2 separate regions of the Homo sapiens genome follow, and region 1 is linked to region 2. A link means that fine-mapping ties the variant in region 2 to the expression of a gene that starts in the linked region. Tissue or cell type: sun-exposed skin. Region 2 holds a variant in brackets; the other region holds the start of a gene. All regions are shown on one strand. Distances are from middle to middle.

The links. PIP is the estimated chance that this variant, and not a neighbour inherited with it, causes the effect.
Region 1: ACO1 starts here. The variant in region 2 is fine-mapped to the expression of ACO1 in sun-exposed skin (GTEx, PIP 0.99).

The regions. Positions count from the first base shown.
Region 1 is chr9:32,380,839-32,388,946 of GRCh38, forward strand. ACO1 (aconitase 1) reads left to right here and starts at 3,805. Exons shown (of 21, transcript NM_002197.3): 1 at 3,805-3,897. RefSeq lists a silencer at 3,606-3,985.
Region 2 is chr9:32,455,109-32,463,216 of GRCh38, forward strand. RIGI (RNA sensor RIG-I) reads right to left here. Exons shown (of 18, transcript NM_014314.4): 17 at 4,263-4,406; 18 at 194-2,310. The coding sequence ends at 2,014. It overlaps LOC101060445 (a long non-coding RNA gene), which reads left to right and starts at 3,934. Exons shown (of 1, transcript NR_197444.1): 1 at 3,934-8,108. The variant G/A (reference allele first, on the strand shown) is at 4,919.

The DNA.
Region 1 (8,108 bases), 74 kb before region 2:
GCCTCTCCTTGTTATGAATATAACTTTGATTTTAAGAGGAACAAAACATTTATTTCAAATTTTCTCTAGTATGAAGACATATATTCAGTGAAAAATTTAGGGATTCTAAAGTCCCCTCAAAGCATTCAGGAGGACCATTTTATACTTCATTCATTGCCAAACAGATGTCTTCCCTCCGTGCCACTCTAGAGGACTCTGAACAGCGCAAAGGCCAACAGAGAGCAAAGGGTAAGCAATAGAAAGACACTGACAGTAAGTCAGTCAACAAACTTGTATTGAGCACCTACTATGCACCAGACTCCATGTTAGGGATGATGAACAAACTGACATGGGCCCCTGCCCTCATGGAGTGTATATTTCTAGGTAACAGGTCTTTGGTGCCAATCTGGGGACATGCTACAGCAGAATCACCTGTGGTAAAAATGTAGCGTATTCAGAATCTGAACACAGACCCCCACCCTGACCTAATGAATCAGACATTCTAGGAGGCAGAGGATACAGGAGGCTATATTTTTATCAGTGCCCTATGGTAAATCTGAGAAACACCCAGATTCGGAGAACTACCATTGGTGTTTCTCAAAGCATGGTCTTTTGACCACCCACATCAAACTCAGCCTCCTAAGAGCACAACACAGGCACGCATGTTTTCAATGTACCCCAAGGTTTGAGAAGCGTTATGCTTGACTTTTTCTCTTACACCTCTCCCTTCCTATTAAATGACATGTATGTGAAAATGCAGTATAAATTGTAAAGCATGATACAAAGTTAGTTGGGTATAGTTCCTAGGACCTTTCAATAAACTGAGGAAGTCCAGCATATACAAGTAACTGAAATCGGTGTGGAATATGATGAGGCATTCCTCAGAGCTCAACAGGTCTCTGGCAGAATCTTCATGGTTCTTCTTATAGCAGCAGAGCCTTCTAGCAGGTAAGGCTGCTAAAACAATACTGTTACTTCAAATGAAGGTCCTTCTGCCTCTGCCCCCCACCAGAGCACAGCTGGGGTGCCTGAGCAGTTACATGCTTGGGTGGCATCCTCTCTGAAGGTCCCTAGAGTATATGCCCTCAGCTGGGCCATTAGCAGAACCTTTTATATCGTGACAGAAATATTTGTTAGGTGGACCCTGTGAGAGCGTAGTAATATGCCATGGCAATATACCCCTTAAACATTTAGCTTTCTCAGCAGATCATGAAATACAAATTCGGGATGCAGGATTAGGATGAAAAAGAAACTAAATGGATAGGAGGGGAGAGACAGATGGTTAGAGAAGACACTAAATTCCCATTTTAGATGTGATGAATGACAGGCACTGATATGGTTTGTAATCCCCACCTGTGGAGGGAAGGAGGTGATTGGATCATGGGGATGATTTTTATTATTAGCTATACTGAGAGAAACTGTAAGCAGCTGCCCAGAGGATTCTTGTTCCCTGGGAAGGCAGCTCAGGGATCAGGCCCTTAGGCAGTAATTAAGAGAGCACGAAAATTAAACGTATAGCAGGTGTGGTGGGAAGAGGGCATCAGGGGAGAGCCGTTGGATATTTACCGGGAGCCAAGATGAGGCTAAGACCTGCCTCTCCTTGTTATGAATTTAACTCTTTTTTTCTTAAAGAGGAACAAAACGTTTATTTCAAATTTTCTCTGGTATGAAGACATATATTCAGTGAAAAATTTAGGGATTCTAAGGTCCCCTCAAAGCATTCAGGAGGACCACTGTGCATTCAGAGGACACTCTCTTGCCTGCTGCCAGGTAAGACATACCTGCTTCCCCTTCTGCCATAATTGTAAGCTTCCTGAAGCCTCCCCAGCATGCAGAACTGTGAGCCAATTAAACCTCCTTCCCTATGAATTACCCAGTCTCAGGGTTCTTTACAGCAGCGTGAGAACGGTCTAATACAGACACCTTTGGAATATCCAGGTGGGGTTGCCACATATGGCTGCAAATCAAGAGTGTGAAGGTCAGAAAGTTAACTAAGACCAATGACAGAGACATAGCAGGCTTCAGCTAGAAGTGGCAGGCAGTCTGCATACTGAGAAAATAGATGAAGAAAAACTCAGCAAATGGAGAAACATATAAAGCAAGAGGAGAGAGTGTAGGGAAAGACCTTAAAAAAGAGGGACAAAAGAGGGAAGAGGTGACTCCTAAGAGCGGAGGGCTGAAAAGCCAAAAGGAGGTTAACATTTCTAGGAAAACGAATCGCCAGTGTCAAATACCACAGAGTAGTGAGTAAGGACAGGAACAGAGGACAGGCCCTGGGATTCACGATCTGCACGTCACTGGTGACAACGTCCAAGAGCAACAGACTGGGGGGATGTGGAACTATTTCCTTCACGGTTTTGACCAGCGTGCTTACTAATAAATCTCAATTCCCTTCATAGCTCTGATTTGATTGTTTTCTGCGAAGGATTCTCAGTTACACGGATGTTATCATTGAACATTAGATACTTTGCTTTCCGAATGGCTGCCTCATTAAGAATCGCAATTTAGCTGGATGTGTCCTCATCGGACTTCCCCAGCCTTCTACTCACTCTCACCTTGCCCCTACTCTCCCTACCTCCCAAGGGGACTGGAGCATGATTTTTCAGGGATTGTGGTGCACCTCTGCCATATGGTGGACATTCAAAGAAAATTTAATTACTAATGTGAATGGAAAGGATTTAGGAAGTGGGTGGGAAAACAGTCTCCTCTCATATTGGAAATACAGTTACTTCCCCTTTCAAAATAAATATAAGTATTTATATTTCAAAGTTAAATATAACTAGACGATAGTTGTACCCTATAGTGCAGTATGACAGGGAAGGTGTAGGCTTTGGTGTCAAACCAACCTAAGGACTGAGTCTCAGCTGTTGCGCATTGCACACCTGCAAAGACGGGTAATATTCTTTACTTGTAAGGTGGTTGGAAGAGCTGAACTGAATAACGTGGAAAGAGTCGATCACAGGGCTTTGTGCAGAATAGGAGGGCAGTATAAAGTAGCAGGGGGGCTATTAGTACTGGCTATTGTTTACTCATCCTATAAGCTGCTTATTCAGAAAACTACAGTAACTTTCCAAATAATTTGGGCAGGAAAACCTCACCACCTTTCATCTAGAAAGATCTAATCACTTCTTTGAACGCCATTCACCCAAGAGGGCACAACTCCTACCAACATGAAAAGCAGATCTTGTGAAAGCCCACTTGCTGCCATCTCCCAGCCATTTCTCCGACTTCAGACCGGTGAACATCGTGCATTAGAAAGTGTTGTTACATGTCCAAGGAAATCTACATATAGAACTTTTGCCACGGAAATGCTGAAGTCCTATTCTGACAGCGTGACTCCGATGTCCACTTGGCAGGCTTTGCGCAAAGAATTAAGGCGAGGGTGGAGAGGGTGGGTAGGGTGGGGACGGACAAAGTGAGAAGGGAGGCGGGCCAAGTGACCACACGTACATGAAGCCTCTCCAGTTATGGCCAAATCATTTTTTAAAAATAATTCCATTTCTTCCCCACCCTTTGGTCACTTCCTAACGCCGGCTGGGGAGTCACATGCTAAGCTCCAAAGTGAGCAACAGACACCCTCGTCCCAGGTCCCATGCTGGCAGAAGCGGACCCGGGCCGAGGGATCAGCCCTCCCACTTCCAGCGGAGGAGCCCTTCGCAACCCTAGCCTCCAGCCCGGGGCGAAGTCCTCCAGGCCCGCGGGGGCGCCCGCAGGCTCCGCCCCTTCTTCGGCTAGCTGCCCGTCCGTCCCGCCCCTGCTCCGCCCTTCCCGCCCCTGCTCCGCCCATCGCGCGGCGGCCCCGGGGGCGAGAGGGGGCGGAGCGTGGAGGCGGCAGCTGGAACCGCGCAGCGCACGGGAACGCGTCCCGCTGCTTGGGTCAGGTTCGCCGGTCGCGGGAGCCCCGCCGTGCAGTCGGAGGTGAGTACCGACGCGGCCCGACCCACGTCCCCAGGCGGGAGCGCCGTCCACCCTGTATCCCTCGAGAGTCGGTGCGGGCCTTTACCGAGGTGCCCGAGGCAGTGGCGGCACGGGGGACACGGAGGCGAGCTTGGGGAGGCTGAGAGGAGAATCGGGGACGTGTTTCTGGCGACTGACGTCTCCACCCTGTCCCCAGTCTATGTCATGCCGGGGAGAGAAACCAGGGATTGGAAGTGGCTTTCCTAGACCCTTCTTAGCCTTGGCTGTGCGTGCTGTCCTGAAAGTCCTTGCCTAGGGTGTGCGGCCAGTCCTGGGAGTCCTAACCCCGAGGGTGTGAGGCCCGCACTGGGAGTCCTCGCCCAGGCCCGGCTGGCTGGATAGGGAAACCCTTGCTAAAGTTGTGCGGGCAGATCCGGGAATCCACTCCAAGGGGTAAAGGGAAAATGGGATGAGGGGGAAGAGACCCTTCGTGGGAGGCTTGAACACAGAGCCCACCATGATAGATTCAGAGATCTAGAAAGGAGCTTGGGCTGCAGTTATGACCAAGTCATTTTTTTCTAGATTCAGCTAGCACATCATAATGGCATCTTCCTTCTTGCAACACATGTAACTCTCTTCCCTGGGGGACAACCTCTAGGACAGAAGTCCCCAAACTTTTCTGGTACTCAGTACTCCTTTACACTCTTAAAAATTAGTATCTTAAGGAGCTTTTATGTGTGTTATATCTATCCATATTTATAATATGTAAGTAAGACTGAGAAATTTGTACTATAATAATTCATTTAAAAAGAATAGTGAACTAATTATATCTTAACATTGCCTATTTTTATGAAAAAGAACTATATTTCCCAAAACAGAAAATGATTGAGAAGAGTGGCATTGTTTTACATTTTTGCAAATCTCTTTGATGTCAAGCGTAATTGAAGACAGCTGGATTCTGATAGCTGCTTCTGCAGTCTGTTGCAATATCACATATCATGTAGCCTCTTGAGACCTCCACTGTATACTCCTGAAAATGTGTGAATGAAAAAAAGCAAGTAACATTTTATTACTAGGAAAATGGTTTTGACTTTGGAGATCCCTAGGAGTTCTCTGCACCACACTTTGAGGATGCTGGTGTAGGAAATGCTTCAGAGGCTTCATTCATTGGGCCTGCTTCTTGTTTGTGATCCTTCCTCTGATTGGGAACACACACCACCTCATGCCATGGACAGTATTAACCTCTGGTATCTGGAACCAAGTTTGATCTCACTTTGGAAACCATGTACTAGGTCCCCACGTGAGGCTGTGATGAACCTTGCCAGCCTCCTGAAAAGTCAGCAAGGCTTCGCACATGCCTTTGGTTGTCTCTGTGCTTGCAGAGCTGACCTGTCTGTGCATCAGGATTACAACAGTGATGTGGCAAACAGGACCTGTAGGCTCACAAAAGTGCCAGTGGGGAGACCATGCCAAGTGTGTAGGGGTTCCTGTGAGAGTTACCAAGTAGTCAGGAAGTTATTTCCAAAAGAACAAGGAGGCATGCTTTTGCCTTCCCTTGCACGTGTTCATTTCTGTTTGCAGTTGCATGGTTATTAGCCTTGAGTTTATTGGAATAATGATTTCCAGTCTTGACGTTCTTTCACTTTCCACTTTCAGAGGGTGTCACTCTGAGTGGTGCTTCCTCAGCCCCTGTCAAAAAGCAGTTTCCACCATCCTGGAGTGTGGTAGGTGAGGTCCTTCACGGGACTCTTTCCTTAGCTTCGTGCCTTGTCAGAACAAGTTCAAGACAGATGTTATGTGTATATATTTGGGAGGAAGAAATTTTCTAACTCCATCCTCCCTTTTGTTCCTTCATCCATAGAGCCTCTTGTGCTCTGATGGATCAGTTTAAATGCTACAGCCGATACTTGAGAAATGTTGCATGCACATGAGCGTGTTGTGTGTGTTGCACAGTCCACAGGTGAGGAGGAGGAGAAGTCCACAGGAGAAGGAAATGGGATCTAAACTCTGAGCACCTGCTGTGTTCTTTGTATTAAAAAATTCCACTTTGATGGTGGGGTCTCATTCCTTCATTCTTTCAGTAGATTTTTATTGGCCACCTATTTCTCATGTGTCCAGTTATGTGCGGGATGCCAGGAAAGTAGTGAGCACAAAAGATGCAGTCCCTGTCTTTCTGGCAATTATGGTCTGATAGCTTTGATAACTGCTGGTTAATTGAGATAGTCTATTATATAGTCAGAGTGTGTACATGAAAGCTGGTCCTGTGTGAAGAGCAGTACCCCCTACCTAAAGTGTGCTTCAAAGGCATGTGCTGAAGAAACCAGTCCCACACTGTGAAGATGATGATAAAAACCAACGTGTATCACCACGTGCCTGGCAAAGAACTTCCTTTGCCTTCTTTCCCCCACTCTTCCTTCTACATAGGAAGTAATTTCCTGTGAGGCAGCCAGATTCACAGGGAAATTACCTCCAACCTGGTGCCAGTCACTGGGCCAGCCTCGGGTTAAGACACTTTCTCTGGGTCTCAGTGTCTTTGACTTTAAAATGAGGAGTTAGGCCATTGATAGTAAGTGTCCCAAGGAGCCAGTGGTTTCAGAGCTGGTTTATACTAGCATTTGTGCATATCTCTTCCTAACTCCGTGTTCAGTGGCAACACATTTTTTAGATTGAAATAAGCCATGGTGGGAATAATAACACCATGGAAATTGGCAAATGCTACATCAGAGCTTTTTTTTCCTCTTGGAGTTCAAGTTGTTAAACCTTTGCCAGCTGACACTGCTATTGTCTGAGCCAAGGTGCTTTTGGTTTGTTTTTTTAGTAGAAAACAGACTCTTTAGCCTAGACAAAGATCCTAGATATAGGGTGTATGATTCAAGTCCTCTAAAATTTTTGATAAGGAAAAAAATCTGTTTTCATCATATTCTAAAATATAGATCAGCAAACTTTTTGTGTAAAGGGACAGGTAGTGAAATATTTTAGGCTTTTTGGGTTATGGTTATACAGTTTCTATTGCAGCTACTCAGCTCTGGTGTTGAAGCACGAAAGCGGCAATAGACAACATGCAAACAAACAAGCATGGCTGTGTTCCAGTCAAACTTGATTTACAAAAACAAGGGCCAGCCATAGTTTGCAGACTCCTGACCTAGACTATCAGAACAAGAACCATGTTTCAAAGAGAGAGTTTTATGGAAAAGGAGATTCTTCAGGACTTTATGCGTGAATACCAGAAACTTGAGTCTCCAAGATGGACGTAGCGGGCAGTAGTAACTGTAGAGGATTTGGAATCAATCATGGAAGACTCCATAGTAGGTTGTTTAAAGGAAGGCCAAGTGTGTTGAAGTTTTGAGGACAGAGCCACATATGGGTCTTATTCCCAACTCCCTCCCTGGAGCCATCTCAGATGTTATGCTAGAATGGATGTACCTGCAGTCTAACCCGTTGTGTGAATTTTGCATATTATTATGCAAAAACTAGTAGTGTCTCTAAGAGCTGTCTTGATTCCAGGGGCAGAGACAAAGGAAATGTTAAAAAGGATGGAAAGGCCCAGGCACCGTGGCTTACGCCTGTAATCCCAGCACTTTGAGAGTCCAGATCGCTTGAGCCCAGGAGTTCAAGACCAACCTGGGCAACATGACAAAACCCCATCTCTACCAAAAATACAGAAAAAAATTAAAGCCAGGTGTGATGGCACATATCTGTAGTCCCAGCTACTTGGGAGGCAGAGGCAGGAAGATCACCTGGGAAGTCCAGGCTGCAGTGAGCCATGATTGCATCACGGCACTCCAGCCTGGGCAATAGAGTAAGACCCTGTCTCAAAAAAAAAAAATCCTCGTTATATATGTATATGATACATTGTAGAGTACACTGTGTGTGTATACCTGTGTGTATGCATATTTGTACATCTATGTGTACATAAGTTGTGTGCATGTGTCATTACATATTCCATTCCATGTATTTAAAGTAGCATCATGAATGTTTAGAAGATAGACCAGTAGCCAGTTCTGGGCAGTGGAATGAGGTAGAAGGAAGCCAGAGAACTTTTGTTACTTTTCATAATAACAGATGTGTGCCTATCTTATAAGGGAGGATAGCCTGTAGCATTCATATATTGCTTTTACAACATAGTAAACCTAAAATCCCAACAACGTATACTTTCGGAAGGAAAATAGAGTTATTTCTCTGATAGGAATGTTGCCACCATCCTCCTCCCCCAATTAAAAAAAACTGCTTTG
Region 2 (8,108 bases):
AGCCGAGATCACACCACTACACTCCAACCTGGGCAACAGAGTGAGACTCCATCTCAGAAAAAAAAATAATAATAATAACTTTTATCTTATTAAATCTATTTCTAGTAGATGTTTTACACATCCTATTGGAGTTCTTAAACAATAGTGTATTAGTCTGTTTTCACACTGCTATAAAGAACTGCCTGAGACTGGGTCATTTATAAAGAAAAGAGGCTTAATAGATTCACAGTTCCACATGGCTGAGGAGGCCTCAGGAAACTTACAATCATGGCAGAAGGGGAAGCAGGCAAGTCTTACATGGCAGCAGATGAGAGAGAGAGTGTGTGTAAAGGAGGAATTGTCAAACACTTATAAAACCATCAGATCTCATGAGAACTAACTCACTATCCCAAGAACAGCATGGGGACAACTGCCCCCGTGATCCAATCACCTCCCGTCAGGTCCCTCCCTTGACACATGGGGATTATAATTCAAGATGAGATTTGGGTGGGGACATATAGCCAAACCATATCAAATAGCAATTAAAAAAAATCACATAAGAAAAGACACTCTTAATAAAATACAAATAGAAAATGAAAAAAAACCAACTCATAAACTTGGTTTAAATAATCCATTTGTATTGGGTCTTAGTAAGAATACTACTACTAGTAACTATTATCAAGCAACTACTGTGTCATGTACTTTTCACACATTCTTTTAATTAAAAACTCTCCACTAACCCTTACAGTTCAGTATTATCCTTGTTTTACAGATGAAGAAAAGCCAAAGAGAAGTTATATAACTGGCAAGTTTCTCTGGCTCCCCGCCTGCACCACTGCTCACCAGATTGCATGAAGAGGGAGGCAGCTGTAACACCTCATCCCGTTGATCTCCAGGGAACTCAGATACTTGTTTCCACGTCCAGGAAACCGCAAACTAAGCTCTTTGAAGCATCAGCAAACCTTGCTAAGTGACACGTGAATGCCATTTGGATACATATTCTAATCTTTCAAGTAGAAAGGACAGTCAGACTGCCTCATCTGTAACATCCAAGGGATCTGAGAACAGACATTCAGTCCAGGTGTTGAACATCAACATCATTATAGGAAAATGGTCAAAGAGAACAATGGCACACGTTAAGAGAACATATTAATAGGGCAAGATGTATAGTAAACTAAGTTTTCAAGAAGTATTTTATCATTTTTATGCTCTCTACTAAAAGCTGACCACTGTAGAGTGGATACACATTGCTACATACAGCAACTCTACAGTGGACAGCTTTTAGTAGTAAGCATAAAAATGGCTTTATGTTCTCATGTTCTCTGTGTAGCCATACCACACGTTGCTACACCAGGAACATGAGTACATATAACCATTACATATACATACCTGTATGTATGTATATTAGTTACATATACATATGTACAGTATATACATGTATATATATTGAACCCTTGGAAGGGATCAGCAAAGAGGAGGACTCAATAAAAAAAGACTAGAATAGAACTAGAAGAGAGAGAAGCCCAGGGAGAGCTTCAAGAAGAGTGCTCAACAGGGCCAAATGCGCAGAGGTCAAATAGAAGGTTAAGAAGTGCCCAGTGGATTTGGCAACCAGAGTCACTGGTAACCTTCAAAAGAACAATTTCAGTAGATTGTTAAGGGCAAAAGCCAGTTTACAGTAGGTTAAGGAGACAAAGGGAGATAAAAATTCCCAACATTCCATTCATTCATCTATCCCAGTGTGTACAGAGTGATTACTGTGTGTTTGTTGGCAGTTGACTCTAAAAAGAAGGCTAGAAATGAGGCTTTTTAATTTTTCCCAAGTACTATGAGCTCTGTTGGCCTACAAAATACTCAGTGCTGTGATTCACTCATTTGTGCTTTGCATATATAATATAGTACAAACTGCTAAAGATATTTTTAAAAAATATATTTTCACAGGGGTACAAGCGATCCATGATTATACCCACTATGTTTGTTTCTTCTCCACTCAAAGTTACTCATTCCCTGTAGCTGAAGATTGAGGACCTGATATCATTTGGACATTTCTGCTGGATCAAATGGTATCTTCTCAAAATGAAAGTCCTTCCACTTCGAGTACAGTGTCTGAACTCCAGTTGCAATATCCTCCACCACAAAACTTTCAATTTTTATAACTGGAATCTCAAATGTCTTGTACTTCACATGGATTCCCCAGTCATGGCTGCAGTTCTGTCGGGCACAGAATATCTTTGCTCTTTTTTCAAAACTTGAAAACTGCTTTGGCTTGGGATGTGGTCTACTCACAAAGCATTCCTTAAAAGCATCTCCAAGCACAGTGTAATGGCATTCCTACAGATGAAGGGATGGAATAACACACAAAAGAGAACGTTAGAACCAGTACATAATTGTGATTTAAAAAAAAAAAAAAGAAAACCCCACAATAATCTGAGGCAAAGAACAGGTGGGTCTCACTTATTTTACAATTGGAGGAAAAAAAAAAATAGATTCACCCAAAGTCCAGAGGATCCATGCACCTGACTCCCCTCTACAGGCAGGGTGGGGTTGCAAGTGAGGACACTGGGCACCTCATAAAGAAGAAGATTAAGAAGGTTCCAGGTAACCCAGCTTCTGAAGGTAGATACTCATTATTCAAAAACAGAAGCGATGTTTGCTGAAAATTTGTGAAGCTGAAGTTCACCAGTGGCCCTGGCAGGCACAATCCAAAGGATACAGGGAAAACGACCAAGGTCAAGATGCAATTGAAGAAGGTCAGGGACTAATGTGTCCACAGGCCCCACCTAGAGTCAACTTTAGAGTAAACAGCTCAGAAACAAATGCAGATCCAACATACTAGTCCCTCAGGAAAACATAGGGTCTAAAAGGGCCATTTTTAGTAGAACAATCACCCAAATTGGAGCTGAAAGGACCTTTTACAGCTAAAGAAGCAGACTTAGAAAGGTAAGGGAACTTAGCAATATGACTCCTAATAGGCTTTTTGCCCAAACAGCTGAGCTGATGAGAGATTTCTGCTTTCTGAAGACGAACGGAACATCCTGAAGTAATAACTCCTCATCTGAGCCAGCCCAGCCCCTCCACTGTGCCCCCCATGCAAGAGTTATACCCCATATTTCTCTTTGGAGATTTTTCTAACCCTTTCTCTGAAAGTTTTAAGAAAGAAATATAAGGCTGCAATAGAAGGCTAATCTGCAGATGTCACATTTTACAAATAAGGAGATATTTTGTTTTCATTATAAAAGTGATCCATAGCCCAAAAGGAATGTTTGGAAAACATAAGGTAGTAGGAAAAGAGAAAAAAAGTCATGGAATCTCACCACCAAAATATTAATACATTTTGGTATAGTTCCCCTAGCCTTTGTTTTTCTGTAGCAAGGTAGGTTTTTTGACTTTTTCTCTTGACAATGACAATGAATGTATTTGCTGCTGTTGTTTCACACAGCTACAAAGTAGCATCTTTACAATTCTGTGTTCTGGTTACTTTTTTCCTTATTACCATTAGTTTGTAAGCAGTTTTTCATTATACTACATAAACTTCATAATTTTTTAAAATAAACTTTACTTTGGAACAATTTTAGATTTAAAGAAAAATTGCAAAGATATCCCAGAAAATTTCTGCATACCCTTTACCCAGTTTCCCCAAATGTTAACATCTCATATACCACAGCACATTTGTCAAAACCAAGATAATTAACATCAGTACATTACTATTATCTAAACTACAGATTTTACCACTCTTTCTCTAGTTGTATCCTTTATCTGTTCCAGGAGCTAATCCAGGACACGTCATTGCATTTAGCATGACTTTTTTTTTTTTTTTTTTGAGACAGAGTCTTGCTCTGTCACCCAGGCTGGAGCGCAGTGGCGCGATATCAGCTCACCGCAACCTCTGCCTCCCGGTTCAAGCGATTCTCCTGCCTCAGCCTCCCGAGTAACTAAGATTACAGCCACCTGCCACTACGCCCAGCTAACTTTTTTATTTTTAGTAGAGACGGGGTTTCACCATGTTGGCCGGGCTGGTCTCGAACTCCTGACCTCGTGATCGCCCACCTTGGCCTCCCAAAGTGTTTTGATTACAGGCATGAGCCACTATGCCTGGCCAAAAACTATTTCTTTATTATTGAACATTTAGTATTTTTTTTTCACTTCTTAGCTTTTTTTAAATACACAGATCATGGCCACAGTAACAATGGAAATAATAGTAGTTTTATTATAAATATTTCACCAACAGTAAGCTGTAGCTAGTGCTAAAACATGACCAGGCACTTTGTAAAAAGGCAGCTTACCTCTATCACTCTTACGTCAGCTGTGTAACATGCCAAGGCTTTGCACTTTCTGCAGAGCAGTTTTTTATTTTCCTTATCAGGTACAGGTTTTGGTTTTTCTTGACTATCTCTGATGAATTTTTCATGAGTCTGTATATGCAGAATCTAATGCAAAAAGAAAGACCGCAAATGTAATTTGAGTACAACATATATAGCAAGAAACAGGCACAGATACGTACAATACATATACATGCACGCACATGTATAATCATTCATATACAACTTCCATGAACATATGGTACCTGACTTTGTAAAATCACAGATTTTATTGGTTCTCCTAACTTAGTATTAGTCAATGCTTAATTGTGGCCTCCAATTAGTCTTTCAATTTCTTCATCAAAAATGCTCATAAAAGCACTAAAGATGTCCATAGAATAGTCATATGAACTATGCTTTCTACTTTAGTGTTTGGCAAAACTTGGGAAAAAAAACAAAACCTGTACCAGATATACAATATGCGCTGTTTCAGGCATAATTATATCCATTTGCAGGCACAAACTCAGTGAGTGATACAACAGGCAGAAGAGCCCCTGATATGGTTTGGCTGTGTCCTCACCCAAATCTCAACTTGAATTGTATCTTAACAGAATTCCCACGTGTTATGGGAGGGACCCAGG[G/A]GGAGGTAATTGAATCATGGGGGGCCAGTCTTTCCTGTGCTATTCTTATGATAGTGATTGTGTCTCACAAGACCTGATGGGTTTATCAGCGTTTCCACTTTTGCTTCTTCCTCATTTTTCTCTTGCCGCTGCCATGTAAGAAGTGCCTTCTGCCTCCCTCCGTGATTCTGAGGCCTCCCCAGCCATGTGGAACTGTAAGTCCAATTAAACCTCTTTGTTTTCCCAATCTCGGTTATGTCTTTGTCAGTGGCATGAAAACAGACTAATACAGCCCCCAACATCTAAAACCTTTTTTCTCTCTCCCCTTCAGCCACAGGGAATATTGTTGCATATGTATAGTATGATTGTATTCTAATTCAAAATCTAGGCCTTGGCTAAGAACATGGTCCAACTTAGAACCATGGACATGATATTATAAAACTCTTCATACCAATAAACAGAAAGATCTCAAACTGAATGAAAAAAAAAGACAATCATAGATGCCAACACTGAGAAGAGAAAGATTTTAAAGCACCTAATAAAGATGCTTCGATGGGCAATTATAAATACTTTTGAAACATAAAGAGAAAACATAAAGGCTCAACAATGAAATGGAAGACATAAAGTTTAGAACTGAAAGATACAACCAAAATAAAAAGTTCAATGGATGGGCTTTCCATAGCAGAATGGAAGGGACAAAGAAAAGAGTCAGTGAACTGAAAGAACAACAGAAATTACCCAATCTGAACAACAAAAAAATACACTGGGGAAAAAAAAAGCGCAAAGTCTCAAGGACCCGTAGGACTATAAAAAATGATGTCATGGCACTGGAGTTCTGCAAGGAGTGAAGAAAGAGCAGGGCTTAAAAAGTATTCACAGAAATGACCTCCAAATATATCCCAAATTTAACAAGCTACATCAACCAGGATTCAAGAAGCTGAACAAGCTCCAAACAGGATAAACCCCTTCAAAAAACACTCTAAGACAGGTTATAATTAAATTTATGAAAACTGAAGAAAAAAATCTTGAAAGCAGCCAGAAAAAAAAAAAAAAATGACACCTTACCCATAGGGGGAAATCAGTCTGAATAACAGGAGATTTGTCATTAGAAACGATGGAGGCTACCTGGAAGTGGCACAATATTTTTTAAACGCTGAAAGAAAAGAACAGTCCACCCCAGAACCCTAGACTCAGCAAAATGCCACCTTCAAAAATAAAGGAGAAATGAAGACATTCTTAGATGAAGGAACACTGAGAATCTGTCATCAGCAGATTTACCCTAAAAGAATGGCTAAAAGAAGTTTTCTAAACAGAGGAAATGATAAAAGGAACCCTGAAGCCTCATGAAGGAAGAAAGAACACACTGATTTCCTCCATGTCTTCTATGGAAGATTCTGTCCGTCCCACTGGTTTATGGTTTATGGTGGCGCCTCTCCATATCAGATTATGCTTTCACGTGTCCCAGGTGGATCCAGACAGCCTAGGTGCAAATAGTGTCCCTGTCACTTAGCAGCTATGTGATTTGGGGCAAGTGCCTCGTTTCTTTACATACAAAATGGGACAATAGCATCTGCTTCACGGACTGTCAGGAGATAACATGAGTTTATGACTGCTCAGGCCTGCCCAGCACAGGGTAAATGCCCATCACCGTTGCCTCTTCTCTGTTAGGCTAGTCTTATGCTAAGAGCCATGAAAATGTTAATGGGGTGGCTTGTAGTTTTGTATTGATAAGGCAATCTCCATTCATTAGGGATTGCCTTATCAATACGAAACTACTAGCTACCCCCATTTTTATTTTTCTAGAAATATAGCTATTTTCATCTATTTATTATTTTATATAAACTCTAGAACCATTTTATCAAGTTAAAAGTATCATTTATGCTTTCAATATGGTTTGTGACACGTGAATAAGCAAATTTGGGGTGAATGCACGTGTTTAAAATATTCAGTCATTCCATTCAAGAGCATGGCATTTCTTTTATCTTAATATCTCCCAGTAAAATTTTTTTATTTGTCCTCATTTCTGCTTCAAACTTTTCTGATTAGGCTGGTAGATGTAATGGTGAAACAGATGGGTTCTACCAACTCTACCATGAACTAGCTGTGTGATCTACTGGCACTGAAGCTATTCAAGTCTCAGTTTCCTGCCTATAAAATGACATAGGAGGCACTACTGTATGGATTGCTGTAAAGCCTATTGATGTAAGTAAAGCATTTGCAGGGACTGTTGGAGAGTCAGTGTTCTACATGCATGAGCTACACTTATTGTCACTGCGAATGGAAATCTCCCTCCCCCTTATATCTTTTAATTGGTTACGGATCATACATAGATAATATATTGATTACCATACCACTTCAAATTCAAATTTGCTTTATATAAAAAAAAAATTAGATCTAGCTTTTTTTTTTTTTTTTTTTTTTGAGACAGAGTCTCATTTTGTCACCCAGGCTGGAATGCAGTGGCACAATCTCAGCTCACTGCAACTTCCAGCTCCTGGGTTCAAATGATTCTCCTGCCTCAGCCTCCCAAGTAGCTGGGATTACAGGCAGGTGCCACCACATCCAGCTAATTTTTGTATTTTTAGTAGAGATGGGGCTTCACCATGTCAGCCAGGCTGGTCTTGAACTCCTGACCTCAGGTTATCCACCCACCTCAGCCTCCCAAAGTGCTGGCATTACAGGTGTAAGCCACCACACCCGGCTTCCTTTCCCCCACTCCCCCTTTTTGAGATAGATTCCTACTATGTTGCCCTGGCTGGACTTGAACTCTTGGGCTTAAATGATCCTCCCATGTAGCTGGCGCAATAGGCGTGAGCCATCATGCCCAGCTAGACCTAGAATGTTTTGATTTAAAAAAACAAATATACTGGCTGGGCACAGTAGCTCACGCCTGTAATCCCAGCACTTTGGGATATGCCGAGGCTGGCATATCACTTGAGTCCAGAGTTCAAGACCAGCCTGGGCGACATAGCAAAGCCCCATCTCTACTAAAACTACAAAAATTAGTGATGCGTGGTGGCACACACCTGTAGTCCTAGCTGCTTGGGAGGCTGAGATTGCAGTGAGCCAATATCACACCACTGCACTCCAGCCTGGGCTCTGTCTCAAAAAAATAAATAAGAAATAATTAAAAAATTAAAAACCAAATATAATTTCCCCTTCCCCACTTCTTGGCCCCATCCCACCTGAAATTATCTTCATTATTTTTGTA